4 linked regions of the Homo sapiens genome follow. The protein of the gene in region 3 interacts with the protein of the main gene of each other region in a pairwise test. Each region holds a gene or a part of one and is shown on either strand. Other genes may lie near its edges. The genes, in order: ATXN3, TRIM55, USP13 and TRIM63.

Region 1 (7,000 bases), on a different chromosome or scaffold from region 3:
GTTAGCACATGCCTGTAGACTTGGGAGGCTGAGGTGGGAGGATTGCATGAGTCTGGGAGGTCGAGGCTGTAGTGAGCCATGATCGCACCACTGCACTCCAGCCTAGGGGACAGAGCAAGATCCTGTCTCAAAAGAAAAAAATGTATATATTTGAATGGATAAAGAGATGGCTTTGAGTTTCTGAGATATATATGGTGCTGTTTATCTAAAGTAAACAAGTTTTCTGTAAATATTTTAAGGCTTTGCAGGCCAGCTGTAGTCTCTGTCACACATTCTTATTTGTGCATGTTTTTCCCAACCATGTAAAAATGTAAAGTGCATTCTTAGCTACTGGGGCAGGTTGAATTTGGCCCATGGGCTAGAGTTTGCCAACCCCTAACTTAAACCTTTGTACTAACTTTATGACCACTACTGGATTTTTGTTGTTGTTTGTTTTAGTTCTGGTGCCTGCTTTGTTTTTTTTTTTTTTTTTAATCCTCTTGCTGATGTTTCTTGGTGCAGTTACTGTGCCATTTGTATTGGTGCTTTTAATGTAATGCAAACTGGTAATAATATCTAAACTTGCTGGGGTTGTACATAAAATTATTGAAAAGATTGAAAAGATGCTGAGCATTGACTCTGTGGCATTCATTATGCCCTTTTGTGATTGCTGGATTTTAGCCATCTTTAGGACATTTGAGCTTTAGGAGAAGCCAAATTCTGTATAAATGACTTGAAGTGCTAATAGCACAGGTTTTGAAACCTCTGCCTGGGTTTGAGTCTCAGCTCTGCCTTTTACTACCTGTGTGATCCTGAGCAAGTTACTTAGTATCCCTGTCCTCTAGTTTCCTCCTCTGTAGTGTGGGGATAATAACATAGACATAACCTGAGAGTTAGAGTGTAGAGAAGGCTCCCTGGCAGATAGTGCTGTAGAAGTACTGGCCATTGCCATTACTCAGGTGCTTGTGTTTGCTGAACCTCATAGTAAGGGCTCGGAGAGCACTAAGAGGAGGTGAGAAATGCTGCTAGATTGACAGCTTGTCCCCAGATAGCCCATTCCCGAGAGCACCTTAGGTTTATACCTGATTTGTGTTGTAGTTAGTAGTGTCTCTGGTAATTTGAACTAGTTTCAGGTTGGTCTTGAAAACCTGGGGAGGTTGGGGGTAAATGATTTGGTAGCAGTTCTCTTTTGTGATTTTATACATTATCTTTGTAGAACTGCAGTTTGCTAATTCTCTGAGCCCAACACAATGAAGTCTGGGCCTAAAATCATAGAATTTCTTTTATTTTTTTTTTTGTTTTTAATTTATTTATTCCCTCCCTCCCTCCTTTCTTCCTTTCTTCCTTTTCTTTCTTTCTTTCCTTCCTTCCTTCCTTCTTTCTTTTCTTTCTTTCTTTTCTTTCTTTGGAGTCTCACTCTGTCACCAGGCTGGAGTGCAGTGGCACGAACTTTCTTCAGAGTCTCACTTTGTCACCAGGCTGGAGTGCAGTGGCGCGAACTCAGCTCACTGCAACCTCCGTCTCCTGAGTTCAAGAGATTCTCCTGCCTCAGCCTCCCGAGTAGCTGGGACTATAGGCATGTGCCACCATGCCCAGCTAATTTTCTTATTTTTAGTAGAGACGAGGTTTCACCATGTTGGCCAGGATGGTCTTGATCTCTTGACCTCGTGATCCACCTGCCTCAGCCTCCCAAAGTGCGGGGATTACAGGCGTGAGCTACCACGCCCAGCCTATTTTTTATTTTTTGAGGCAGAGTCTCACTCTGTCACCCAGGCTGGAGTGCAGTGGTGCAATCTCAGCTCACTGCAACCTCCGCCTCCTGGGTTCAGGTGATTCTCCTGCCTTAGCCTCCTGAGCACCTGGGACTACAGGCGCCTGCCACCACACCTGGCTAATTCTTATATTTTTAGTAGAGGCGGGGTTTCACCATGTTGGCCAGGCTGGTCTCGAACTCCTGATCTCAAGTGATCAACCTGCCTTGGCCTCCCAAAGTGCTGGAATTACAGCCATGAGCCACCATGCCCAGCCAAATCATGAGATTTCAATACCGCTGAACTTTGATTATGGCAAAGTGAACTTCTGCTTTGATTAAAGCTTGATGAGAGAGGTGGCTGGGGATAGTTTGAGATAAGGGCAAGGCAGGAAAATGCATAATCTTACGTGGGCTCATTGTCATTGTACAATTCTTTTGGTCCATGTGGAATTTGATCCGTCCTATGACTTAAGTTATGTTTATTTTTGTTTTTATTTTTATTTATTTTGTGTCTTTTTGAGAGACATGATGTTGCTCTGTCACCTGGGCCAGAATACAGTGGCACAATCTTAGCTCCGTGTAGCCTTGAACTCCTGGGCTCAAGTGATCCTCCCACCTCAGCCCCTCAAACAGTTGAGATTATAGTATGAACCACTGTGCCTAGCCTTAAGTGATTTTTAAATTTGTACTGAACAGTTTGTCCTTTCCTTCCATTAAATCATATTAGAAGTACAGAACTTGATATTTCCTGTAGCAATACAGTTTTTCTTTGATGAAGTTTGATTTCAAGTACTTATTTTTCATAATTTAAAGCTATTTTTTATAGAGAGAATTTTAATCAAATATTTGGATGTCACTATTGCTATATATGGTATTAAGTATGGTGACCATAGTTTGTAAACTCCAAACTGACAGCAAGACAGGAAATTTGTGTTAGCAAAGGCTTTTTTCTTACTGTTTGAATTTTTTAAAAATTAGATACAATACAGAGAGGAGCACACAAATCATTAAGAGTACAGCTCAGCGAATTTTCACACAGTGAACATGTGTAAACAGCAAGTAACAAAAGATTTACCTGCATCCTATAACCTCCCATTATTCCCTTTTCTAGGTACTGTCTCTCCACTGCATTCCCACCAAATATAACCACTATGCTGAATTCTGACATCATAAATGAGTTTTGCCTGATTTTGAGCTTTTGTGACTGGAAGTGTACAGTGTATATACCCTTTCGATTCTGTCCTCTTTAGTTTACCATTGTTTGAGAAATTTATCCATACTGTTCCAGAATTAACTACTGTTAATTATTGTTAATTAACTACTGTTGTAGTTAATTCATCCTCATTGTTATCTAGTATTCTTTTGTGAGTAAACACAATTTCCATTCTACTGTGATCCCAGCTATCCATTTGGGTCGTTTCCAGTTTGGGGTCCATTACAAATAGTAATGCTATCTGTAATGCTATTTTGTATTACTACAAATAGTAATGCTATTTGTGGCACAAAAATACTGCTTTTGTGAACATTCTTATACATGTCTTTTGATGAATGTATGTTTGCATTGCTGTTGTTTACATTATGTACCTAGTAATGGAATTGCTAGATCATAGGAGATGTATATATTAAGCTTTAGTGGATGCATTACATAATTATTAGTTATTATTGGTTATACCAATTTATCCTCTCATCAGTAGTATACAACAGTTTCTGTATCTCTAATCTCCAACATTTTAGCCATTTTAGAGTTTGTGTACTAACACATTGTGGTTTTAATTTACATTTCCCTGATGACTAATAAAGTTGAGTACCTCTTTTGTGTTCTTTATAGCCATTTGACTGTCTTGTGAAGTGCTTGTTTGTCTTGCCTATTTTTCTTTTCTTTCTTTCTTTTTCTTCCTTCCTTCCTTTCTTTCTTTCTTCTTTCTTTCCTTCCTTCTTTTCTTTCTTTCTGTCTTTCTTTCTTGTCTTTCTTGTCTTTCTGTCTTTCTTGGTCTTGCCCTGTCACCCATGCTGGAGTGCAGTGGTGCAGTCTCAGCTTACTGTAGCCTCGACCTTTTTGGGGCTCAAGTTATCCTCCTTTCTCAGCCTCCCAAGAAGCTGGACTACAAGCACGCACCACCATGCTCAGTTAATTTTTTATTTTTTGTAGAAATGGGGTTTCACCATGTTGTCCAGGCTGGTCTCAAACTTCTGGGCTCAAGTAATCCTCCTGCCTTGGCCTCCCAAAATGCTGGGATTACAGGCATGAGCCACCGCAGCCAGCCTTGGCTATTTTTCAAAAGGATATAAGTAGAACATCTGTATATCCCTTCAATTTGCATATTATTCAGTAAGAGTTGCACTCTGGTAGTAGAAATATATAAGGAGGAGAAAGAAGTGGAAACAAAAAGTCTATTCTCATGAGAAGACTTGGGGGATAGTGTTCTCTCTAGCTCCAAGCTACTTATTCCTTACGAAAAGTTGAAGATAAACTTATCTCAGACTGAGGCTGTCTCAATGTTGTCTTCCTATTCCATTATACACATATAACCCATATTTTTTTCACCAGCTGAATTTTGCTCCTAGAAAATTGATTCATCAGGAAAAATATCCGTCTTGCAAGGTGGTTCTCTTTAGAGTCTGCTGTGTGACATAGCTCAGGACAAATTGTGTGATGTCAGATAGGTTGGGTTAAGGAATAGACCTTATTGGGGAAAGAGAGAACTTGGAGGGCCAAGGTTAGCAGGAGAAGGAAATGTTCTCTCATCTGCCGTCAATTCAGGGAGGGGCAAACCTGGTGTCTGTGTTCACAGGGAGGGATCCATCCATCTGTGATTCTCCCTTCTTATCAGGTAGCATGGGAAAGCTACACTGTTGCGGGGAGGAGGGTCACACGCAGGCTACTTAGTACCAGGCACCCTGGACTTGGATTCAGGTTGCCAGTTGTGTGAGAAACTGCCCAGCACCTGAAGGCCCTGAACCCATGAGAAGTTGTACCTACCTCCCATGAGGAGGAATCCTGTCATCCCATGGGAGCTGAGCTTGGGTGCAGTCCCTCTTGCTGGCTTGTCCAGGAGTGAGCTCCAGGGTTGTTTGGGACAGTTCTGCTCATTGCTTTACACTGTGTATACATTATCTGTAGAGTTCCATGAAGAGAACTTCAGCACTGTAACTGCAAGTTTTAACATGGAACAGAATTTTTCTCACCTGTATTAATTCTTAAGATTTGAAGTTCTATCAACAAGCATTTAGATTGTGTGGAGATTTTTTTATTTTTATTTTTGGAGACAGAGTCTTGCTCTGTTACCCAGACTGGAGTGGCAGTGGCATGGTCTTGGCTCACTGCAGGCTCTACTTCCTGGGTTCAAGCGATTCTCATGCCTCAGTGTCCTGATTAGCTAGGACTACAGGTACACACCACCATGCTGGCTAATTTTTGTATTTTTAGTAGAGACGAGGTTTCACCGTATTGGTCAGGCTGGTCTCGAACTCCCAGCCTCAAGCAGTCCACCCACCTCGGCCTCCCAAACTGCTGGGATTACAGGTGTGAGCCACCATGCTTGACTGACATCATCATGTTAAAAGAATAAATGTTCTAGGGAGCTGGGCACAGTGTCATGTTTCTGTAGTTCTAGCTGCTCGGGAGGCTGAGGCAGGAAGATCCCTTGAGCCCTGGAGTTCAAGTCCAGCCTGGGCAACATAGTGAGATCTCTTTTTTTAAATAAATAAATAACTGTTCTAGGGACTAAAATTTCCTTTCACCATTAGTAATTTACTGTAGAATCTCCAAGAATGAACTTATTTTAGGTACTGAAAATGAGGGAGACTAAATGTTTTATACAGTAGTTTTTAGTAAAATATGAGATTTGATGCATTTGATAGATGATGTTTGTTTAAAATAATTCTTAAATTTTTGATCATGTAATTATAGTTTCATTAATGGTAGATTTGTAAAATAAATGTTACCAAATGAAAATGCATGTACCTATGTTAATTATCCTTATCTAAAGCTGAAAGTTCAGTTCAACTATGTTAAAACATAGTAGGGGCCTGGCAGGGTGGCTCTTGCCTGTAATCCCAGAACTTAGGGAGGCCAAGGTGGGCAGATCACGAGGTCAGGAGATCGAGACCATCCTGGCTAACATTGTGAAACCGTATCGCTACTAAAAATACAAAAAATTAGCCGGGCATGGCGGTGGGCACCTGTAGTCGCAGCTACTTGGTAGGCTGAGGCAGGAGAATGGCGTGAACTCAGGAGGCAGAGCTTACAGTGAGCCGAGATCATGCCACTGCACTCCAGGCTGGGTGACAGAGCAAGACTCCATCTCAAAAAAAAAAAAAAAGTTGGCCAGGTGTGGCGGCTCACACCTGTAATCCCAGCACTTTTGGAGGCCGAGGCAGGCGGATCACAAGATCAGGAGTTTGAGACCAGCCTGGCTAACAGAGTGAAACCCTGTATATACTAAAAATACAAAAATTAGCCAGGCATGGTGGTGCATGCCTGTAGTCCCAGCTACTTGAGAGGCTGAGGCAGGAGAATCACTTGAACCCGGGAGGCGGAGGTTGTGGTAAGCTGAGATTGCTCCACTGCACTCCAGCCTGGACAACAGAGCAAGACTCTGTCTCAAAAAAAAAAAAAATTAATGATTAAATTATTTAGGGGAGCCGGGCGCAGTGGCTCACGCCTGTAATCCCAGCACTTTGGGAGGCCAAGGCGGGCGGATCACGAGGTCAGGAGATCAAGACCATCCTGGCTAACACAGGATGAAACCCCGTCTCTACTAAAAATACAAAAATTTAGCCGGGCGTGGTGGCGGGTGCCTGTAGTACCAGCTACTCGGGAGGCTGAGGCAGGAGAATGGCATGAACCCGGGTGGCGGAGCTTGCAGTGAGCCAAGATAGCGCCACTGCACTCCGGCCTGGGTGAAAGAGTGAGACTCCGTCTCAAAAAAAAAAAAAAATTATTTAGGGGAAGATACTATACAATTCTGTTTAACAAGTCACATTTTAATTTTTTCTTTTGGAAATATTAGCAAGAAGGCTCACTTTGTGCTCAACATTGCCTGAATAACTTATTGCAAGGAGAATATTTTAGCCCTGTGGAATTATCCTCAATTGCACATCAGCTGGATGAGGAGGAGAGGATGAGAATGGCAGAAGGAGGAGTTACTAGTGAAGATTATCGCACGTTTTTACAGGTACTGATTTTAAACTCACTAAGTCACATTTCTTTTTTTTTTTTTTTTTTGAGACGGAGTCTCGCCCTGTTGCCCATGCTGGAGTGCAATG
Region 2 (7,000 bases), on a different chromosome or scaffold from region 3:
AGAGATGTTAAAACTTGCAGTATTGGTAAAACTACAAAACACATCTTCACCTTAGCTATGAAGTTGGCTTGGTGCAGCTGCCAAAAATAGTACCCAGGCCTGGGAAGTAAATTGCGTAAAAGCAATGAACCAAATTTCCAACAATAAAGCTCATAGTTGAGTGAACTAGGGATGCTTTTGTGATTTTCTGTGATTTTGTTATGCTGTTTTTTCTTGAACTTGAGACTTTCCTGTGGGACAATTTTACTTGGTAGCAAAACCACAAGTTGCACAGAGCACTTGGCCACATGTCTGGGAGGAAACGCAGTTGTCCCCTGGGGGCAGACAGCCTTACTAGACCAGAATCTTGAGCCTCAGGGTACATTAGGTAACACTGGAATGACCTTGGATATACAGAATGAAAAGAGTTCAGCTGTGGCTATTGGAAGGGGGTCGGGGGGGGTGACCAATCACAGACTGGGATGTTGTCAGTCAACTCTGACCTCCTCCAGAAAGGCTGGAGACTGTAAGTCTCCACAAAACCTAGCATTCTTTTTTTTTTTTTTTTTTTGAGATGGAGTTTTGCTTTGTTTCCCAGGCTGGAGTGCAGTGGCGTGATCTTGGCTCACTACAAGCTCTGCCTCCCAGGTTCACGCCATTCTCCTGTCTCAGCCTCCCAAGTAGCTGGGACTACAGGCACCTGCCACCACGCCCAGCTAATTTTTTTGTATTTTTAGTAGAGATGGGGTTTCACCGTGTTAGCCAGGATAGTCTCGATCTCCTGACCTCTTGATCCACCCGCCTCGGCTTCCCAAAGTGCTAGGATTACAGGCATGAGCCACTGCGCCCAGCCAAAACTTGGCATTCTTATCCAGAATTCTGCATGGTGCCAGACTAGCCACAGTTGGGAGTGGGAGATGGTAAGAGAAGGTACTATTTTGGCTAATATTAATAATTAATATAATAATAATTAACTTTAAAATATAACAAGTAAAACTACTATGTGCTGCATGCCAGACACTGTTCAGGGTGCCTAACACATGAATCATGTGCAATTCTTTAATTCTCACAATAATCCGGTGAGGTGTTGATTATTATAATTACTGCTACCCTATTAAAGCTTTTAGTGCCTTAAAGTAATCAACATACACAACTTTTAGAATTCATTACTACTGGGCCTCTGAAGAGAAATGCAGTCTCCACTCTGTTCTCTCTTTACCCACCCCCAAGCCTCATTCCCCAGAGTCAACCACTTTTAATTCTTTTAGCTGTTTTTCTGCTATTTATCACCAATGACATGTGCATACTACTGGTATGCTCCTATTCTTTGATTTTTCAATTTTAGACATTTTCTATTGACTTTCCACTGTAGACAATTAGGACTGAGCCCTCACATGGCTGGGCTTTACCTCTACTTGGGAATTCTTTTACTCTCCCCCTGGGTTGAACCCCTTGCTCCCTGGATTCCAGGTCTCCTTGTTTGGTGGCTTACTCTCTTATTTCTATGGAGCACATCCTCAAGTAATCTCTTAAAACATGCACAAAGTCCTCCTCTTTTCAGCCTCTCCCAGTCTGTCACCGCCTACTTCCACCTTCAGGACTACTGGCTCCTGCAGTTCCAGAGCCTTTCCAGGGTTCCATAGCTCAAGTCAGCTTGCTTATTGTAAGCTTCTCACTGCAGGAATGTAACAGAACTAAGATGCAACTCAAGTAGGTCATGTCCCTTCATCCAGATGTTCCTAATTTCCAACATTTGGTTGACATCTCTCATCTGCTGTCATCTGTGCTCACTTTTTGTCCTTATTGATTTATGCCCTTTTATTTCCTTATCCTCATTTCACTGGGATTTCAGCAGAATAAATACATAAATACATACATACATATATAAATACATAAATAAATACATGCTTGTGTTCATTCTGCCACATTTAATTAGAAGACCCTTAATCTGATATTTGATACGAGTAAAAACTGAGACCAGAAGAGGTTAAGTAACTTGTCTAAGGCCACATAGCCACTACATGGAGAAGCTGAGCTGAAATGAAGCTTTAAGATCAGTTTGGGCAGGCACAGTGGCTCACGCCTATAATCCCAGCACTTTGGGAGGCTGAGGTGGACAGATCACCTGAGGTCAGGAGTTTGAGACCAGCCTGACCAACATGGTGAAACTCCATCTGTACTAAAAATACAAAAAAATTAGCCAGGTGTGGTGGCAGGCACCTGTAATCCCAGCAACTTGGGAGACTGAGGCAAGAGAAATGCTTGAACCCGGGAAGGTGGAGGTTGCGGTGAGCTGAGATTGAGCCATTGCACTCCAGCCTGGGCGACAAGCAAAACTCCATCTCAAAAAAAATATCAGTTTGACTACAAAGTTACTACTTCAATTGCCTCACCAAGACCAGATGCCCACTCCTCAGGAAACTCTAGGGTGGCCCCGGGAACCTCAGAGACCAGAGACAGCAGGCTACATACTTCTCAGTCTAGCCTACACTGAACGGTGAGGGGCCACAGCCAACATTTAGCACTGGGCCCTGACCACAGCTGTGAGCTTGGCTGCTCTCACCTCATAAACATGTATTTATGTCATTCTTTTACATGCCAAATCGGTCCCAAGTCAGTTACATGTTTGAAGTTGTACAGAGGTTTCATTATATGCTCATCTATGAGTAAGTGGTGCCTCTGGGGCTGGGCTACAACCTAAATAAGAAAAACCCAATGAGGAATATGGGAAATTGTTCTCAGTGTATACAGCACCATGAAAAAAATAAATAAATTGAATCACAAACAAAACTAAATGTAGAGCCTTATGGCTGTTTTCACATTTTCAATATTTGCATATACTGCATAGACCTGTGCTCTATGACGCAATCTCTGGTCACAGCTGTTGATATCAGAACAGCATGTGGGACCCAAGCTGCCCACTCTTGCTTAGCCCACATTAATAATAAGGTGGAGATACCTACGAGGGAAGGGTTTAGAGGGGAAGAAGCCTTTGACCAGGCAGAGACCAACTTGCCAGTCCCAACCCCAGAGGGCACTGTCATTTATTAAAGGAGTAATCAGGATGTGGTCTGGTCTCTTCCTCTGCCACTCAGGAGTGCCAGGTGATCCCAGGCTTTCCCCATATTTGCCATGCCTTCTCCAGCTGGGTGGTGTTACACTAGAGCACAGGGAATACTGTCCATTTAATAGGTCAAATTCCCTTTCATTGTCTCACTCATTTGTGCAACAAATATTTATGGAGCCACTGCCTCTGTGCAAGGCACTGTTCCGAGTACTGGAGATGCAGCAAAAAAAAAAAAAGACTCATCATGGCCCCTGCCCTTATGGAGCTGATATTCTAGTGGAGGAAACAGACAGACCTGAGAGGAGGATAATTTTCTCAATTGTGGAGTTGACTTCCTTATTTGAGTTCCAAATAATGTGGTCAAATCAGAAGGTCATAGACTTCATGGAAAGCATATTGCTGCAAGACCAGACAGAAATTCCTTTTGCAACAGTCAGATTCTAAAATTTTGAAACTGGAAGTCCGTGCAATTTTCTTACAAGACCCAGGGCTTCTCCCAATGTTTAGCCTAATCTCAAGTAATTGACGTCCACCTAGCAACTTATAAAGGAACATTAGCGTCTTACAGAGGCACATCAGCACGTTCTCTGCCTTTCTCTGAGTTCTGGGTCTGCAGCTACAAGATACCACACATCAAAAAAGATGGGTTTCAAACACTTGTATTCATGATTTACAGTAGGAAGTGCATTTTACATTGTGACCACTTACATATATGGACGGATATATATACACACACATATGTATATACACACATACACAAACACACACACACACACAAACACACATATACTTTTGTTTCAGTCACATATATACACACGTACACCTGAAACAAAAGTTTCGAACAGCAATACTTATTTTTACTACATGTAATTCACAGTATTTGCTATTCCATTCTATTTTTATTTTAACAATGCAGATCATAGCTCCCTAAATTGATTTCATGGCTCATAAAAACCTGTAGTTTTTAAAAATTGGATCTGTATAGCAACAAAACAAAATGTAGTCCCAAATCTAAGATGTTGCTAAATAACTATGTGTTTGGAAATTTGAAGAAAGCTTCTGGATTTGGATTTGAATTTTTTGAATACTTCTGAAAACTATTAGCAGCCTCAGTCATTAGATAGGATATATCAGAATTCCTGGGGTTTATATAAGGAGGTACACCCACACTTGCGTCTCATACACATTTGCATCCAACCAGTACTTGAATTAATAATCAGAAGATTTTGGTTCCATGTGAGCCACACCTATCCTCATTTCTTCAGGTGAAAAGGGTCTTTCCTGGGGCCAGAGGCTGGAGGGGGGCGATCTAGCTACTCCTAAAAGCTGGTGCAAACTCGACTTTTAGTTCATCAACAATTTCCTGTTCTTGGTCCATAATGGGAAAGTGTCCCTTGAGAAACTTGTGAGCATGTAGACACAGTGCTGGACCACGTTCCTGATGGCTCACCAGGGTTCGATATTCTACTTTCAGGAATTTCACTACCAGATTCTGAAACCTTAAATAACTTAAAATTGGCCATGTGGAAATACACCATGGAAATGGGCAAATGGTACAAATCAGGATCTCCACGTCTCTGTCCCTACCCCAAGCAGGTTGTTAGAGATTTGCCAGCACTCCCCTGCTACACCTGCAGGGAAGCTGAATTTGGTGGGCTCTGAGCATGTGAAAGGGCCCCTGGGGGTCTTCTGGAATAGAATTGCTGGGCATACAGGGAAGAGAAGGAATTTGCAAGGCAGAGCAACATCAGCTCTGCCTTGATGAGATTGCCCCAGTGAGAGCTGATGGACATTTATCTGCCTACCTCCTCCCAGGCCAGAAAAGAAATCCGACCAGCCCATGTGCGAGGAACATGAAGAGGAGCGCATCAACATCTACTGTCTGAACTGCGAAGTACCCACCTGCTCTCTGTGCAAGGTGTTTGGTGCACACAAAGACTGCCAGGTGGCTCCCCTCACTCATGTGTTCCAGAGACAGAAGGTAACAGAGCTGCTCCCTCCCTCCCGCAACCCCTCCCCATCCCCACACCTTAGGGCCTTCCTGGGGCCAGTGTGAGTGGCTCCCTGCGGTGGAGGAGGAAGCCCAAGCCACGCAGGGCCATGGGACACTGGAGGGCACACAAGGTCTGCAGGAAGACATGTGCACAGTTGTGCACGAGGCACACACCAAATTCCCTGGACGGTGGGGGACCAGGCGAGACAGGGCAGGGGTGCCCAGGTTCAGGAAGTGGTGCAGAACGGCACGATCCCTGTTTTTGTGCCCTTTGGAGGTTGCTGATGATGAGCAATGTTAGGGGACCCAGCAAAAGCTCAAACTGCTCCAGCTTATGTGAAGTTTAGACTACAGATAAGAAAAGGACAGCTTTTTACCCTAGTCACAGAATACTTTCCTTCATCCACCCATGAAAGATTTCTTTGGCCCTCCTCAATGCCTTTTATCCCGCACTCTTAGTGAGGGAGGGTTACACTGATGACATGCAGTTACAGAACAGCTTTAAAACACAGACTTGTGCTGGCCCTCCTGTCACCAGGGCCAGTTGCCTAAAAACCCCTCTGAGTGTGGTGTCTCCCCCTGACCCCAGGGCCTCAGCCATGGCCCCCTAATTCTGAGCAGACAGAAAGACAGTGTCTCCCTCTACACATTACCAACCTGCCAACCTGGTTTCATTCATGAGCAGGTCAGAATTTATCCATCTGGTACAGATAAAAGTGGAGTTGGGTACTCCAATAGGTGCAGCCACTCCAGGCACCGAGAACTTGAGCAGTTCCACTACTCAGTTTCTTTCATTTAGAATCATCAGTTCCACATTTGATCAGTGTTTTACTGTGAAGATCAGTGCTGAAATCAAATTTGGAAGCAAAACTCTTGGGCAACACCAATTACAGCTAGTGGCCACTAAGTCCTAAAGAAACAGATTTTGCAAATTATCCACAACATTTGTTTATTTTTGAATCCAGTTACAATTTATTCCCCCTTCTCTTCTGCCCACCTCCCCCAAAGCATAGCATAATAGAACTGGATGGTAGCTGTTTCACACTCCTTCCTTCAGAGCCTGGAGACTCATGTGAGATGGACAGAAGAACAGACTGGTGGGACCCTCACCCTTGCTCCTGTTTGGCCAAAGCAGCTTCACCTCCATATTAGCTTTCACTTGAAGAAGGTTCTGCAGCTTTAAAATATTTTATAATCACTGTTCTGGTCCAATCTTCTCCTTCTAAATGTGAGAAAATTAGGGTCAAAATTGAATATATGTTTTGCCCAACATCACAGAGAAGTTGGGGGTAGAGTTGGACCAAGCGCATGGGTCTCCCAAGTGCCCCTCCAGTGCTCCTGGTGGCTCCATCAGCCAGTCTTGGGAAGGGGGTAAATAGGAACAATAGAATCTCTTCCTAAGTCAAAAGAGCAAAGGAATTTAAAAGTTGACATTTCTCCCCTAGAACTAGTTCTTTGTTTCAGTGTGAAGTTTGTAATGACTTAGTCTAATGTGTGAGTGTTTGTGTCTGTATACACTATATTCTTATGCCCATAATAAGTATTTGTTGAATAAATGAGTATTTACTATACACATTTCCCAAGTAAAATTGACCCTTAGTTCCACTAGGCAAATAATTCCATTTGGGTCCCTGAAGTCACATATTGGTCTCCATGCTATTTATAAACAATACTTAGAATTCTTTAGCTTGAACATGTTGATCTTAATATTAAGACTGATGAAAACTGTGAAACCTTTCCCTGCACAAATGGATTCATACACAAAGGTTTGCTTGCAATATCAGAAGGTCCACAGGCCTCCCTGTTAGTCCTTAGGGGTTGCATGGATCCTAAATTAAGAACCTGTAAAGACAATATTATGACCAATTCACAGTCGGGGTGGCTAGGAAACCCCTAAGATATTGGGTTCATGTTTTCTCTTCATTAGTCTGAGCTCAGTGATGGCATCGCCATCCTCGTGG
Region 3 (7,055 bases):
TAACTGCAAAACAGTGTGAATGTACTCCAATGCCACTGAACTGTACATTTTAAAATGGTTAAGATGGTAAAGTTTATGTTATATGTATTTTATCACAACTTAAAAAATAAAAAGAGAGAGAGGGAGGTAGAATGGATGATACCATACACCTCTCAATCTGGGGCACTAAAATGGATGGCCGCTCCTTTAACTGAGCTCCAGTCCATAGGGAGAGGAATGCAGGGGAGGAAAAAGAGAATTCAGAGTTGCACAGATGTCCAGATCCAAAATGAGCAGAGAACATGAACTTTTCCAAAAAGTCTTTCTGACAGGATCAGCATCATCTCTCACATTCCAAAGCTCTAAAAATGGTACAACTTTAAAGGTAATGAACTACTGTCCAAAAGGGACAGCAAGTGACTTCTTGATTATGATTTTAGAAAAGCAGGATTTTAGGGTACACATGGCAAATGACACAAAGACATCCATTTCACTCCTTTCTGAAACCCCAATCAAAGGACAGCAAAGGGATTTTTTCAAGACATAAGCTATAGCACTAAAGTCTGGAAAGCTGGACGGCAGGTAAATGAATGCTAAAAGACTAAGATGGCAACAGAGCTGAATCCTAGGCCAGCAGCAGGGAAAGCCAAGATCCAACCTGATCTTCACCCCAGAATGCCCAAAAGACTCCAGAACTGGCAATTCAAGATAACTCTGGAAGATGGGGTGAAGTAGGAGCTAAAATAAAGAGAAAGGTTTTCTATGTAGCCGTCAGAGCCCCAAACCTCACCTCCACTCCAAGAGGCCCCTCCCTCTCCTGGCAAAGAACTAGAGAGTGATTCTCTAAAGCAGACAAAAACAAAGGTTTCAGCGCTGGGGAAGAATGAGCTTAGTTAAGAATAGAGGCACCATCACGAACATGGGGACTAAGAGAATGTATGTGTATCAGTCCAGATTTGGTCAGAAAATAGATGCTATTCAGGTATTACAGGCAGGAAGAGATTTGATACAGGAAATTAAAAGCTTAAAAAATCATGGAAAGGGCATGAGAGCCACAGTCAGAGAAATCACTGCCTATGTTCAGGAACTCAGGATGTACAAGCGTCACAAGAAACTGCACAGATGACGTCAGAATCCCCACCACTGAGGTAACTGTGTCCCAGAAGGACACTCAGATGCTGCTAGGAAAACCTCACATCGACCAGGTGCCACAGTTGCAATAGCAAAGTGGCTTCTCCTTCTCTTTTGCCTTCTAAATCTCTTACTGGAAAAATCAGTATCAGAATCTTGCCACCAAGGGACTCTGGGAAATGCAATGTCCAGGAGCCAGCCCCTGCAATGATGGGAGAAGCTTAGCAAAGCAGGGACACAGCTGAGAACCTACAGGCAATATCCAGCTGGTATCGAATACCCAGATGCTGAGACCACCTTCACCCTCCACTCCCACTCAGTTCCCTAAATACTGGTAGACAGGCCTGTATTTTCCAGGCAAGAGATTAGAATAGTCTCCTACCTGGTAGCCAAAGGAAGAAAAAAAAATCACACTAACATTTAAGCTTCCCCAAAGAAACAGCCCAGCCAGGTCACCCTACAATGAAACTCACAGTTCAGAGAATAAAAAAAAAAAAATCCTATCTATGAAATAGTAAATTCCCAGCTCAAGTAGCTCTAATTTTTTCAAAAAGTGTCAATCAAACTCTCTAAATTTTAATTTGCTTCAAAAAGAATGTGCATGCAACATATGACATCTATGGTTGAGCTAAAATTAAGATAATAATTTAATGTGAACCCATAGGCTACATTTCAGGTGAGGTAAGTGACTGGAATAAGTGGTTATATCTTCTTGCCTAAACTCTAGAACTTTGGTTTCCAAAGTAAGGCCTGGTAACCCTCTGACACCCCAGAGTCTTTAAGTAATTTGGGAGGTCAAAACTATTTTCATAACATGAAGTTACTTGCCTTTCTCTCTCTCATTCTCTCATAGCACACAGTGGCATTTTCCCAAGGCTACGTGACATGCAATGACATCATTTCAAAAGCCAATAGAATGTAATTGTTCAAATTGTTTTAAATTTTTCTCAGTTTTAACTTCTAATATGGTAAATAGCAACAGAAATCACACAAAAGCTTTTTGCGGTTCTCAAAAATAGTTAAAGAGTATAAAGAGGTCAAAAAGCTTGAGAATCACTGCTCGAGAACAACTTTTCAGCTAGTTGCTTTTGGAAGGAAGCTTTTGACATGTGAAACTAATAAGATTTACTTTAAGTTTATATCTTCAAAGTGGAAAAAAGTCTGTCTGCTCTGAAATTTTGCTTTACTACCTTGTATCAGTTTATCCATCAGGAGGAAGAGTTTTCCACAGAGATCCTAAATTAACTTTTTTTTCTCCCTACAAGTAAACATTATGATGGGAAGTCTCATTGACTGCAAGGCAACGTGCATAGTACAATGGTAAAATGCAGAGAATCTACAGGGACTCAAACAAATACTTGTACACCAACAACTGAAGCAGCTTTATTCACAACAGTCAAAAGGTAGAAACAACCCGATGTCCATTAACAGGTGAATGGACAAATAAAATGTAATACATGTACATATATATGATGGAATATTATTCAGCCTTAAGAAGGAAGGAAATTCTGATGCATGCTACAACACTGAACCTTGATAACATTATGCTAAATGAAATAAGCCAGACACGAAAGGACAAATACTGTGTGATTCCACTTATATAAAGTGCCTAGAATAAGCAAATTCATAGAGACAGAAAGTTGAATGGACATTACAAGGGGCTAGGAGAAGGGAGAAGTGGGGGTTTATTGTCAAATGGATACAGAGTTTCAGTTTGGAAGGATGAAAAACTGGAGATCGACAGTAGTGATATTCACACAACAATGCATAGTGATAGTTACACAACAATGCGAATGTAATTTAATGCCACTGAATTGTACAATTAAAACGAGTTAAAATGTTTCCATGCGAATGTAATTTAATGCCACTGAATTGTACAATTAAATCGAGTTAAAATGTTTTGTTTGTTTGTTTTTTGAGACAGAGTCTCGCTCTGTCGCCCAGGCTGGAGTGGAATAGCGGGATCTTGGCTCACTGCAACCTCTGCCTCCCAGGTTCAAGCGATTCTCCCTGCCTCAGCCTCCTGAGTAGCTGGGACTACAGGCGCCCGCTACCCAGCCCGGCTAATTTTTGTATTTTTAGTAGAGACGGGGTTTCACCATGTTGGCCAGGCTGGTCTCGAACTCCTGACCTCATAAGGTGATCCACCCACCTCAGCCTCCCAAAGTGCTGGGATTACAGGTGTGAGCCACCGCGCCCAGCCAAAATGGTTTTTTAAAAACAGATTCTAGAGTCAGACAATTCAGATTCACATCCCAGCTCTCCTACTTACTCTCTGGGTGATCTTTGTACTTGAGTTTCCTGATCTGCAAAATGGTAATAGTATATAACATAGGGTTGTTGTGATGATTAAATGAGTTCATGTAGGTATAATAATATATGCAATAATTAGAAGGCTTGGAATGATGCATGGCACCTAGTAAGTGCCCTATCACTCGGTCTCAAACTTTGGCATGTCTCAGAATCATGCAAAGAGCTTATTAACACACAGACTGCTACACCCCCACCCCCAGATCTTCTGAAACAGAATTAGCAGTTCCCAAGACATGCTAGTGCTGCTGGTTCAGGGAGCACGCTTTGAAAACTGCTCTATATACATGTGAGATGTCATTATTATTACTGGCAATGCCTGAGAGAATACCAGGCACACCACTAAATACTTGTGGAAGAAAGGACAGAAAGACAGAGGATTCACTGAGCCCCTAACATGAAGTGTTCCCACAAGTAGATGGAGATCTCAAAGTCTTTCCTGGTGGATATCTAAACCAGCCACTCCCACCTGATGGCCCCTGTCCATCAGAGTTTCCAAAGACTCCCAGGAAGACAAAGAACCAACAGTGACATCTCAATATCACCGAGCCATCTCAGAGCTTTCAAAAATGGGAAAAAAGCTCCTTCTTAAAAAACAGTCCCAATGCGAGAAGGGAAGAAGAGGTGGGAGTAAGGGGCAACCATTTATGCTGAGTATCATATCCCCTCCGGCCACCTTTTTGGTTCAGCCACTGTATGCAGCTGATTGTCACAGCAGGTGTGGCCCAACAGTCTTAGCCTCAGCTGCACTGAGGACCTCTTGCTTCTCAGCTGCTGCTGGTCCTGCTCAGCTTGTCAAAATACTTCCCATTTGCAGGCTTAGTGCCTATAAATACAGACTTGGAAGAGCGAGGGCTTTTCCACCCCTAGAACAAACCTTGACCAATGGGGGATGGGAGCCAGTGGATAAATACAGTACTCTCCCCAGCTCCATCTCAAGTGGACAATTCTGAGGCACATTCTGCAGTTACCCAAGGAGTCCCCAGTGAGGTTTAGCTCTAGCTGCCCACTGTGGAAGCCAGCTCCATAACTCACTCTTGGACTGGCTTTCCTTCTTTCTCTTTGTCACTATTCTCTTGCTCATAATTCCACTTCTGTTCCCTGGGATAACTTTCCAAAATAAACTGCCTTGTCTAAGCCTCCCCGTTTTCAGTTGACCCAAGCTAAGGCAAGGCATAAACAGCTCCACTTACAATGCAGGTGGGGAGGGGGGCAGAATTAGCACAAGAGAGCCAACTATGAGGACAGACTAGAACCGCTGTGCGGCATGACACAGACTCTACGTAATGCAGGCATTCAGAGGAAAGGATGAAGTCTGAAGCAGAAGATGAAGGTTGAGAGAGAGCCCAGACAAATGATCACAAGAGGAAGGTGGTCTTAGAAAAGGAAATCAGTTGGCCAGGTGCAGTGGCTCCCGCCTGTAATCACAGCACTTTGGGAGGCCAAGGTGGGCGGATCACGAGGTCAGGAGTTCAGGACCAGCCTGGCCAACATAGTGAAACCCCGTCTCTACTAAAAATACAAAAAATTAGCCAGGCGTGGTGGTGGGCACCTGTAATCCCAGCTACTCAGGAGGCTGAGAAAGAAAAGGAAATGAGTCTTACACATGGACAAGCCAGAGACTCGCCTCACTGGAACTGACCACCTGGAAACTGAAGAGACACAGGACAAAGTACACTCATAGAAATGAGGAGCTCAACAACCAAAGAGATGAGAGGAGATTTCCATGCTGGTCCAGGGAGGCTTATGAGCAGAAGTGTGAACCAAGACATCCCTCCTCCACTTAAGCACACAAAACTTCCTACACAACCCCTGACAACCAGACTCTTGGGCTTACAACTTGTGATTAACTCTTTTTCTTTCTTTTTTTTTTTTTTTTTTTTTTTTGAGACGGAATTCCCCTCTGTCACCAGGCTGGAGTGCAGTGACGCAATCTCGGCTTACTGCAACCTCTGCCTCCCAGGTTCAAGCGATTCTCCTGCCTCAGCCTCCCGAGTAGCTGGGACTACAGGTGCGTGCCACCACACCCAGATGATTTTTGTATTTTTTTTAGTAGAGACAGGGTTTCACCACGTTGGCCAGGATGGTCTCGATCTCTTGATGTTGTGATCTGTCCACCTCAGCCTCCCAAAGTGCTGGAATTACAGGTGGGAGCCACAGCACCCGGCCATGACTGACTATTTTTCTTTCTTCTTTCTTCCTTCCATTCTTCTCTATTTCCTCCTTTTTAATTTTTTTATTTTATTTTATTTTTTTGAGACGGAGTCTCACTCTGTTGCCCAGGCTGGAGTGCAGTGGTGCAATCCTGGCTCACTGCAACCTCCACCTCCTGTCAAACTCCTGACCTCAGGTGATCCACCTGCCTCGGCCTCCCAAAGTGGTGGGATTACAGGCGTTAGCCACCGCGCCCCGGCCTTTCCTCCTTTTTTAAAGCAAATGTGTATGTGATTACTAATTGGCCAGACACACTTTATGTATTAATTTATTTAATCCACAAAATAACCTTTTGAGATAGGTTGTTACTGTCTCCATTTTACAGATGGAGAAACTGGGGCTCAGAGAAGTTACACACTGAGTGACGGAGATAGGATTCAAACACTGCCAGTCTGGGCTCTCTCCTTCACGACTGTCCCCAACAATCAATGAAATCACCTCATTCTATGTGGTAATCCCCCATGATTCCTTTCTCAGTATTTCCCATATGTTTTATCCTCACCATGTGCAGGGCCTGTAACTCCATGGAATTCATACATTTCCAAAGCATTCACTGAGCTCCTGGTATATATACCAGATGCTAGACCAGCTGCTGGAAATAACACAAAGTCCCCACTCTCCAGGAAGGTCGCACTCAAAGGCAGAGACAAGCACGTGAACATGTCACTGGGGGTTAGACAGGAATGCTTATGGGGTCTGGTGGAAGGCAATATGGAAATGATTCATAGAGCAAGAACCACTTGAATTCAGTCTTGAAAAGAAGCTCCACTGGGAAGGTGCATTACAGACCTTGCACAATGAACCAAACCATGGAGAGGTGAACCTACACGTCAAGGTGGGAGGGTGGGTCCAGGATGAAATCAAAGAGGTAGGTGAAAAACAAATTCTCACTCATCCCAAAATAGCTGTTATTGAGCATCTGCTATGTGTTAAGCCCTAGGAGGTGGGAAGAAGGGAAGAGAGATACTAATACACTACTCATATCCCACAAAGGTGAAGAATGGCAAAGGTCTACAGACAGTGCCTTAGACATGGTAGGTACACTGTGAATTTGTTGATTCACAATCTTCCTCCAACACCACTTTAAATCACATGACCAAGAATAGCTTTCCATAACTGACCATATAAAATCAAGATCAAATGTTTTCCAGATTCAAGGCCCCCATCATCTACTCTCTACTTGGTTCTACCTCACTTCTTGCTACTTGCCAAATGTATCTTTTTATTCCAAATACATTACAGGCAAATTAGTGGGAAATATTCACACGTTGTATCTTCTTTGCACATATAATTTCCCTGGCCTTGAATGTTGATCTCCCTTATTTTCTAGCCATCTTTGTACATAACCTTTTTCAACAGTAACCAATGCAGGGATGATTTCTTTTTTCCACTCAGCTGGTTTTGGCCTTTTCCCTAAGACA
Region 4 (6,885 bases), on a different chromosome or scaffold from region 3:
CCCAAGTAGCTAGGATTGCAGGCATGCGCCACCACGCCCAACTAATTTTGTATTTTTAGTAGAGACGGGGCTTCACCATGTTGGTCGGGCTGGTCTGGAACTCCTGACCTCAGATGATCTGCCCTCCTTGTCCTCCCAAAGTGCTGGGATTACAGGCATGAACCACTGCACCTGCCCAGCCTTAATCTGCCTCTTCTTGATGATTTTCAGTGAGCCTTCAGTGAGCCTTCAGTGAGCACGGGGAAGTCCCTATAACCTGCAACTAAAGCATTTAAATTTTGCCTCAGGCTCTGTTTTCTGGAGAACCAGAGCAACAACACATTGAACCTGTTCTTGAAGGACCAGCTCAGGGCTGGCTTTCCATGGAGTCCACATTGGGAAATGGTGGTGTCGAGAACTCCTTTACTGGGACCTAAGCCTAGCCCTGCCATTGCCTCCTACCAGGGGTCCTGTTCATTCACACTCAACCCTCATCTCCAGGAAAAAAAGGCTGAATGAAACCCCGGCTCCTTTGAAGAACAGGAAGAGAGCATTGTGCATTTATTAAAACAACATATAACACAAACTCAGTTACCACCCCGTATGTCTGGGATAGGCACTGAAATACAGCACATCGTCCCTGTGAGTGCTACCCCATCCTCCTGCTCAGGAAAGGAAGTGGGCAGCTGTATCAACCTGGCTTCCTTCCCCTCTTTCTGACAATCGCAGGTCACCCAACGACCAGGCATTATTATACAAAAGTTCCTTTACAAAAAGCACCAAATTGGCATACATATACAAGTATATACAAAAATCACATTTTAAAAATGTACAAAATATTCCATTTTGCACCAATGTAGAAAAGTGTCCTGTGTGATTGTTTCAAGCACGTTTCCAATTCTGGTTCAGTGTCTGCTGGACGCAGCGGTGAGGGTCCTACCCTAGTCCCTGCTCTCTGAGCAGAGAGAAGACATCACCTCCCCATTGCCCCTCCAGGGGCCCCGACCCCTCCCACCCTGGGCCTGTCACCAAGGCCGCTGGGCCCCTCCCCACCCTCTCCAGTCTCTCTGCATCTGGGGGCCTCTCATTCATCCAGCTCCTTACTGGTGTCCTGAAATGAAGAAAAAGATACAGAGGCAAGGGGTGAGACAGGGACTCAGGAGGATCCAAGGCTTACCAAGCTACTGTTTATTCAAACAGGAGTTTGAATAAAACATCAAACTCCAATTCCTCCCGGTCTCTTCCTTTTAAAACCAAAATAGAATTTAGCTGCCCAAATATTATGGATTGTACATCAGTACAAAACTCCAAAAGACTACCTATAGTTTTCAACTGGATTGGAATTTAGTTTCAGTACCTGTGGTTTGAAAAATAACATTTGCAAGCATGTGCTAATTAGCAAACGTCCTTCCTATGCATCAGACACCGTGCTAAACGATTATCTTATTCACTTCCCACTACAACCTTTTGACGTCAGTACTGTTAGACCCCCATACACAGATGAGTAGCCCAAGACTCAGAGAAATTGTGAGCTGCTGTGATTCAGAACCCAGGCTCCTAATCAAACTCTGCCAGGCTGGCAAACTCAGATGCCTACAAGGAGCCAGCAGATAACATGAATGAGTGAAGCAAGCGGGACTGGTGGTGGTGGGGCTGGGCAAACTGGCAAGGGCATGTCCCATTTTTCTTTTCTTTTCTTTGTTTTTTTTTGAGATGGAGTTTCACTCTTTTGCCCAGGCTGGAGTGAAGTGGCGTGATCTCGGCTCACTGCAAGCTCCGCCCCCCTGGGGTTCTAGCGATTCTCCTGCCTCAGCCTCCCAAGTAGCTGGGATTACAGGTGCCCGTCACCACGCCTGGCTAATTTTTGTATTTTTAGTAGAGACGGGGTTTCACCATGTTGGCCAGGATGGTGTCAAACTCCTGACCTCAGGTGATCCGCCTGCCTCGGCCTCCCAAAGTGCTAGGATTACAGGCGTGAGCCACCATGCCAGCGTGTCCCCTTTAAAGGGGAGAGCCACTGCCCAGAGCCAGCACTCTGGGACTACAAGGAAGTTCAAGTCCAGCATTGTTTGCTTTTTCTAAACTTTCACAAGGTGAAAATGCAGATTCTTAGTTCAAATCTCCTTTTTCTTAACCCTTAAAAAAAACCTAATTTTAAAAATGTTAGCAATTAATTTTTTCTTTTAAGAGACAGTGTAGTGTCCTCTGTTGCCAAGGCAAGAGTGCAGTGGCGCAATCATAGCTCACTGCAGCCTCTACCTCTTGGGCTCAAGCAATCCTCCAGCCTCAGCCTTCCGAGTAGCTAGGACTACAGATATGTACCACCATGCCTGGCTAATTTTTAAATTATTTTTGTAAAGACGAGGACTTGCTGTTGACCAGGCTGGTCCCAAACTCCAGGTCTCAAGCAATCCTCCCGCCTCAGCCTCCCAAAGTGCTGGGATTATAGGCACGTACCACCACACCCAGCCAGCAAGTATTTATTTATTTATTTTTTGAGATGGAGTCTCACTCTTGTCACCCAGGCTGGAGTGCAGTGGCACGATCTCGGCTCACTGCAACCTCCACCTCCCAGGTTCAAGCGATTCTCCTGCCTCAGCCTCCTAAGTAGCTGGTACTACAGGCGCCTGCCACCAAATTCAGCTAATTTTTTGTATGTTTAGTAGAGACAGGGTTTCACCATGTTGGCCAGGCTGGCCTTGGCCTCCCCAAGTGCTGGGATTACAGGCTCGAGCCACCGTGCCTGTCCAGCAAGTAGTTTTGTTTGTTTGTTTGTTTGTTTTAATTTAAACACAGTGCTGGCCAAACAAAACACCTCAATGGGCCCAGCCTAGCTCATGAGCCCCTGTCTTTTCCCTCTGCTGTGCCATATTGCTTTCCATTTAAGAAGATCATTTAGATGTGAAATGGGAGCATTTTATTATGAATAGTTTGGGGTTTTTTTCTTTTCTAAGGGTAAAGAGAACAGGACTTTACCCTCAGTAGGGTTAAAGCACGTGCTGGGGACAGTTCTGAGCGTCATTGCCAATGTCTAACACAGTGCTTCACATACAGTAGGCACCTCAGATTGTTGTGGAATGAATGAAGGAACGAAGGAATGGAGGTAGATGAATTTCTTACCTTCTTCCTTCCCTTCTGTGGACTCTTCCTCTTCCTGATCTTCTTCTTCAATGAATTCTTCCTCTTCCTCATCTGTGACAAAAAAACATTTGTGTTAGGATGGGGCCGGTTCCTTGAGGAGCTACTTGAAGAGGAACCAGGCAAGAGAGAGCACGGTCTAAACCCCTTCCTGTGCCCAGTCGGGTCAAACGGCCACACAGCGGCGGCAGTGGTCTGGGAGGGGATGGGCTTGCCAGACCCACGCTGCACAGAGGCCCTGCTCCTGCAATCCCCCGCACTCCGTCCCAGGGAGCTGGGCTCAAGTCACTTCCTTGCTCCAGCAACAGCAGCTTCTATCACCTGCTCGCCTGTGACCAGAGAGGGGACTCTGAGGAAGCGCACTCTGTGCTTCTGCACATCTCTCGGGTAGGCAGATAAACATTGCCTGAGGAGGAAAAACCTCCTCGATCCTCAGGGATCAGAGTCCTTGTCTTGAAGGAAGCTACTTAGCCTATGAGATCTGCTTGTTCAGCAGCCACTGTCCCATTTTCCTCATTCCTTAGCCTGTGGAGGGGAGGGGTGGACATGATGGGGAAGCACTTCTGGAGCCACCTCTGCTCCCTGAAGCTGAGCACCAGAGGGACAGTGACTGAGCTGCAACTCATGTCCCCACTTTTTTATCCTGAGATGTCACCGTCAAGCTTTAACAGGGAACATCTCCCTTCCCCGCTCCTCTCCCAAGCTACCTCCTTAACCTTTTGGGGCCCTGAAGGGGTCACCACAGAATCAGAACATTTGTCAAGAGTATCTTCAGGCCAGGCTTGGTCGCTCACACCTGTAATCCCAGCACTTTGGGAGGCTGAGGCGGTCAGATCACCTGAGGTCAGGAGTTCAAGACCTGCCTGGCCAACATGGTAAAACCCTGTCTCTACTAAAAATACAAAAAATTAGCTGGGTGTGGTGGCATGCACCTGTAATCCCAGCTACTTGGGAGGCTGAGGCAGGAGAATCTCTTGAACCCAGGAGGCAAACGTTGCAGTGAGCTGAGATCACACCATTGCACTCCAACCTGGGCGACAAGAGCAAAACTCCGTCTCAAAAAAAAAAAAAAAAAATAGTATCTCCAAAATGACAACCAAAATTCCAGCCAAGTAACTGATATCAGAGTATAACCCAGGGAGTTCTGTTGTTTAATCATTGTCACAATGACTACATTTAATAGCAGTTGCTGAGTACTTACTATGTGCCAAGTAGTGTGCTCAGTGTTGAATCTGCATCGTCTTATAAAATCCTCACAAGAGTTTTGCAAGCCAAATGGCCCTCAGTAGAATCTGCACAGGCTACTTGCCAGCTGTGTGGCCTTGAACAAGTGGCTTACCCTCTCTGAGCTTTAAGTTCCCTCAACTACAAAATAGAGATGGTAACAGAACCTATCCCATGAAGTTGTGTTAAATGATAAAACTTATGTTAAGGGCTTAGCGCCTAGGACATACAGAATATTCAGTAACTGGTGACTGTTGGTACTCTCCTCATTTTACTTGTGGAGAAACTGAGGCTCAGGGAGATTAGGAAGGCCAGTGCAGGACTTCACAATGTTATGTTCACACCGTATGACCCACTCTTGAATATCTATTTCTTTCTTTTTTTTTTTTTTTTGAGATGGAGTTTCACTCCTGTTGCCCAGGCTGGAGTGCAATGGCGTGATCACAGCTCACTGCAACCTCCTCCTCCCGGATTCAAGCAATTCTGCTGCTTCAGCCTCCCGAGTTAGCTGGGATTACAGGCATGCACCACCATGCCCAGCTAATTTTGTATTTTTAGTAGAGACGGGGTTTCTCCGTGTTGGTCAGGCTGGTCTGGAACTCCTGACCTCAGGTGATCCACCTGCCTTGGACCCCCAAAGTGCTGAGATTACAGACGTGAGTCACTGTGCCTGGCTGACCCACTCTTGAATATCTTAGCTTAGGGAAGCTGACAGTGGAGCAGCTCACTACAGCAGTGGATGTCCCCAAGGCCATTGGTGTCTCTGCTTTGGGATGTATTTTGTCCTTACCTATGAATGGGGTATATCTGGGGCTCTGAAAACAGACTTAGCACCAGCTACTGAAGGTTTGTAGGAGAGCGACACAGGAGGTGCCAAGAAGCTCTTCTCTTTCTCACGCCAGCCATTTACAGTTCTTCCTTGTTCCTTCATCATCCCCTTGTCCCCCAACCTCAGCTGGTCATTGGAGCACCACCTCTCAGACCAACGCAACAGTCAGCAATGTGGGATCTGCCCTCTCTTTCTCTGTTGCCTTTTAGCTGTGTTTCCCTTTTAGCTGTGTGACCTTTAGCAAATTAACATATTTGCTTCCATTCAGTTTCTTCATTTCCTTTGTTATTTTCACCCTTATTATTGTTACGGTTGCATTGTTACAATTATTATAGGCACTCTATGGAAGAGTAATTATAAACAGAAATGAGGACATGATGTTGATCAATTAAGGTGCCTGGGTATCATAGGTGATAGCATTAAGAAACTGAAGCTAAGACTACCTTTAGGCAATAACTAGTACATCTTTAGGGCTCTACAGGACCTTTCTGCATTGATATCTGATTTTTTGCAACAGCACCATGAGTTGGTCATTATTAGAGGGCTCACTTCTAACCTGACTTTTTAAATTAGAAAATAAAACTCAGGCAGAAGGGGGCTTGCCAAAGGTCACACAGATAAACAAATGACAGAACCAGGATTTAAACTCAGGACTGTCTGATTCCAGAGGGCATATTATTTCTACTGCCCCAAGAGGCCTCCCTGCCATGGATCCATATGTAATTTATGAAGCAGGAATTCTGCACCAGGCACTGTGCTAGGCTCTGGGCTCATCTAGAAATCGACTATATGAATTTTTTTTTTTTTTTTTTTGAGATGGAGTTTGGCTGGCTCTTTTGCCCAGGCTGGAGTGCAGTGGCACAATCTCGGCTCACTGCAACCTCTACCTCCTGGATTCAAGTGATTCTCCTGCCTCAGCTTCCCAAGTAGCTGGAATTACAGGCACATGCCATCACGCCTGGCTAATTTTTGTATTTTTAGTAGAGATGAGGTTTCACCACGTTGGTCAGGCTGGTCTCAAACTCCTGACCTCAAGTGATCCGCCCACCTTGGCCTCCCAAAGTGCTGGGATTACAGGCATGAGCCACCACAGCCGGCCAGAAGTTGGCTATATGAGTTTGATTGATATTTGGGGATCTTTATTAGTGTATCTGCCTCCCCATCGGGCTCAGTTGGAGGGATGCTGGTTTCCAGGGGTCAGGCAGGCAAATAGACAAGTGGCATCACCACCTCCTTTACCTGTCCCAAAGTCAATGGCTCTCAGGGCGTCTGCTATGTGCTCTAAATCCAAAGTAAAGAAGTCCATGTTCTCAAAGCCCTGCTCTGTCTTCCCCAGCTGGCAGCCCTTGGAAGCTTCCACAATGCTGCAGGGGAGACAGAAAGAGAGGCAGGATGAGGTCTCTGGGGCTCAGTGCAGGGAAGAGAGGGCACATGCTTTGCCACGCCCAGGCCTTCTACCCAGAGGCTCCCCTGGAGGGATGGAGTATTTCCTCTCCAACCTCAAGCACAAGGAGTGGTCCAAAAAGTCAGGGATGCAAAGGGTCAGGGAAGCCAGCCTAGAGTGAGACCCTCCCAGCAGGCCTAATGCCCAGGATGAGGCTTCCTGGACAGAGGTCCTGGTGGGAACTAGGTGCTTGGATCATAGCCTCTAGGAAGACACTGACCTTTTGATGAGTTGCTTGGCAGTCTGCAGGGGGAGAGAGAACAAAGGATTA

What was found.
Region 1: the proteins of USP13 (region 3) and ATXN3 interact in binary tests that used the Homo sapiens proteins (3 or more experiments, as listed by UniProt).
Region 2: the proteins of USP13 (region 3) and TRIM55 interact in a two-hybrid assay, tested with the Homo sapiens proteins (2 studies listed by BioGRID and IntAct).
Region 4: the proteins of USP13 (region 3) and TRIM63 interact in a two-hybrid assay, tested with the Homo sapiens proteins (2 studies listed by BioGRID and IntAct).

Annotation. Positions count from the first base shown.
Region 1 is NC_000014.9:92,096,583-92,103,582, reverse strand, and holds part of ATXN3 (ataxin-3 reference isoform), read left to right. Parts: intron 1-6,744; coding exon 6,745-6,909; intron 6,910-7,000. UniProt on the Homo sapiens protein: Deubiquitinating enzyme involved in protein homeostasis maintenance, transcription, cytoskeleton regulation, myogenesis and degradation of misfolded chaperone substrates.
Region 2 is NC_000008.11:66,130,129-66,137,128, forward strand, and holds part of TRIM55 (tripartite motif-containing protein 55), read left to right. Parts: intron 1-4,861; coding exon 4,862-5,027; intron 5,028-6,966; coding exon 6,967-7,000. UniProt on the Homo sapiens protein: E3 ubiquitin ligase that plays an important role in regulating cardiac development and contractility, muscle growth, metabolism, and fiber-type differentiation.
Region 3 is NC_000003.12:179,656,015-179,663,069, reverse strand, and holds part of USP13 (ubiquitin carboxyl-terminal hydrolase 13), read right to left. Parts: intron 1-7,055. UniProt on the Homo sapiens protein: Deubiquitinase that mediates deubiquitination of target proteins such as BECN1, MITF, SKP2 and USP10 and is involved in various processes such as autophagy, endoplasmic reticulum-associated degradation (ERAD), cell cycle progression or DNA damage response.
Region 4 is NC_000001.11:26,050,794-26,057,678, forward strand, and holds the end of TRIM63 (E3 ubiquitin-protein ligase TRIM63), read right to left. Parts: intron 6,858-6,885; coding exon 6,835-6,857; intron 6,535-6,834; coding exon 6,410-6,534; intron 3,172-6,409; coding exon 3,100-3,171; intron 1,091-3,099; coding exon 1,080-1,090; 3' UTR 508-1,079; downstream 1-507. UniProt on the Homo sapiens protein: E3 ubiquitin ligase. Mediates the ubiquitination and subsequent proteasomal degradation of CKM, GMEB1 and HIBADH.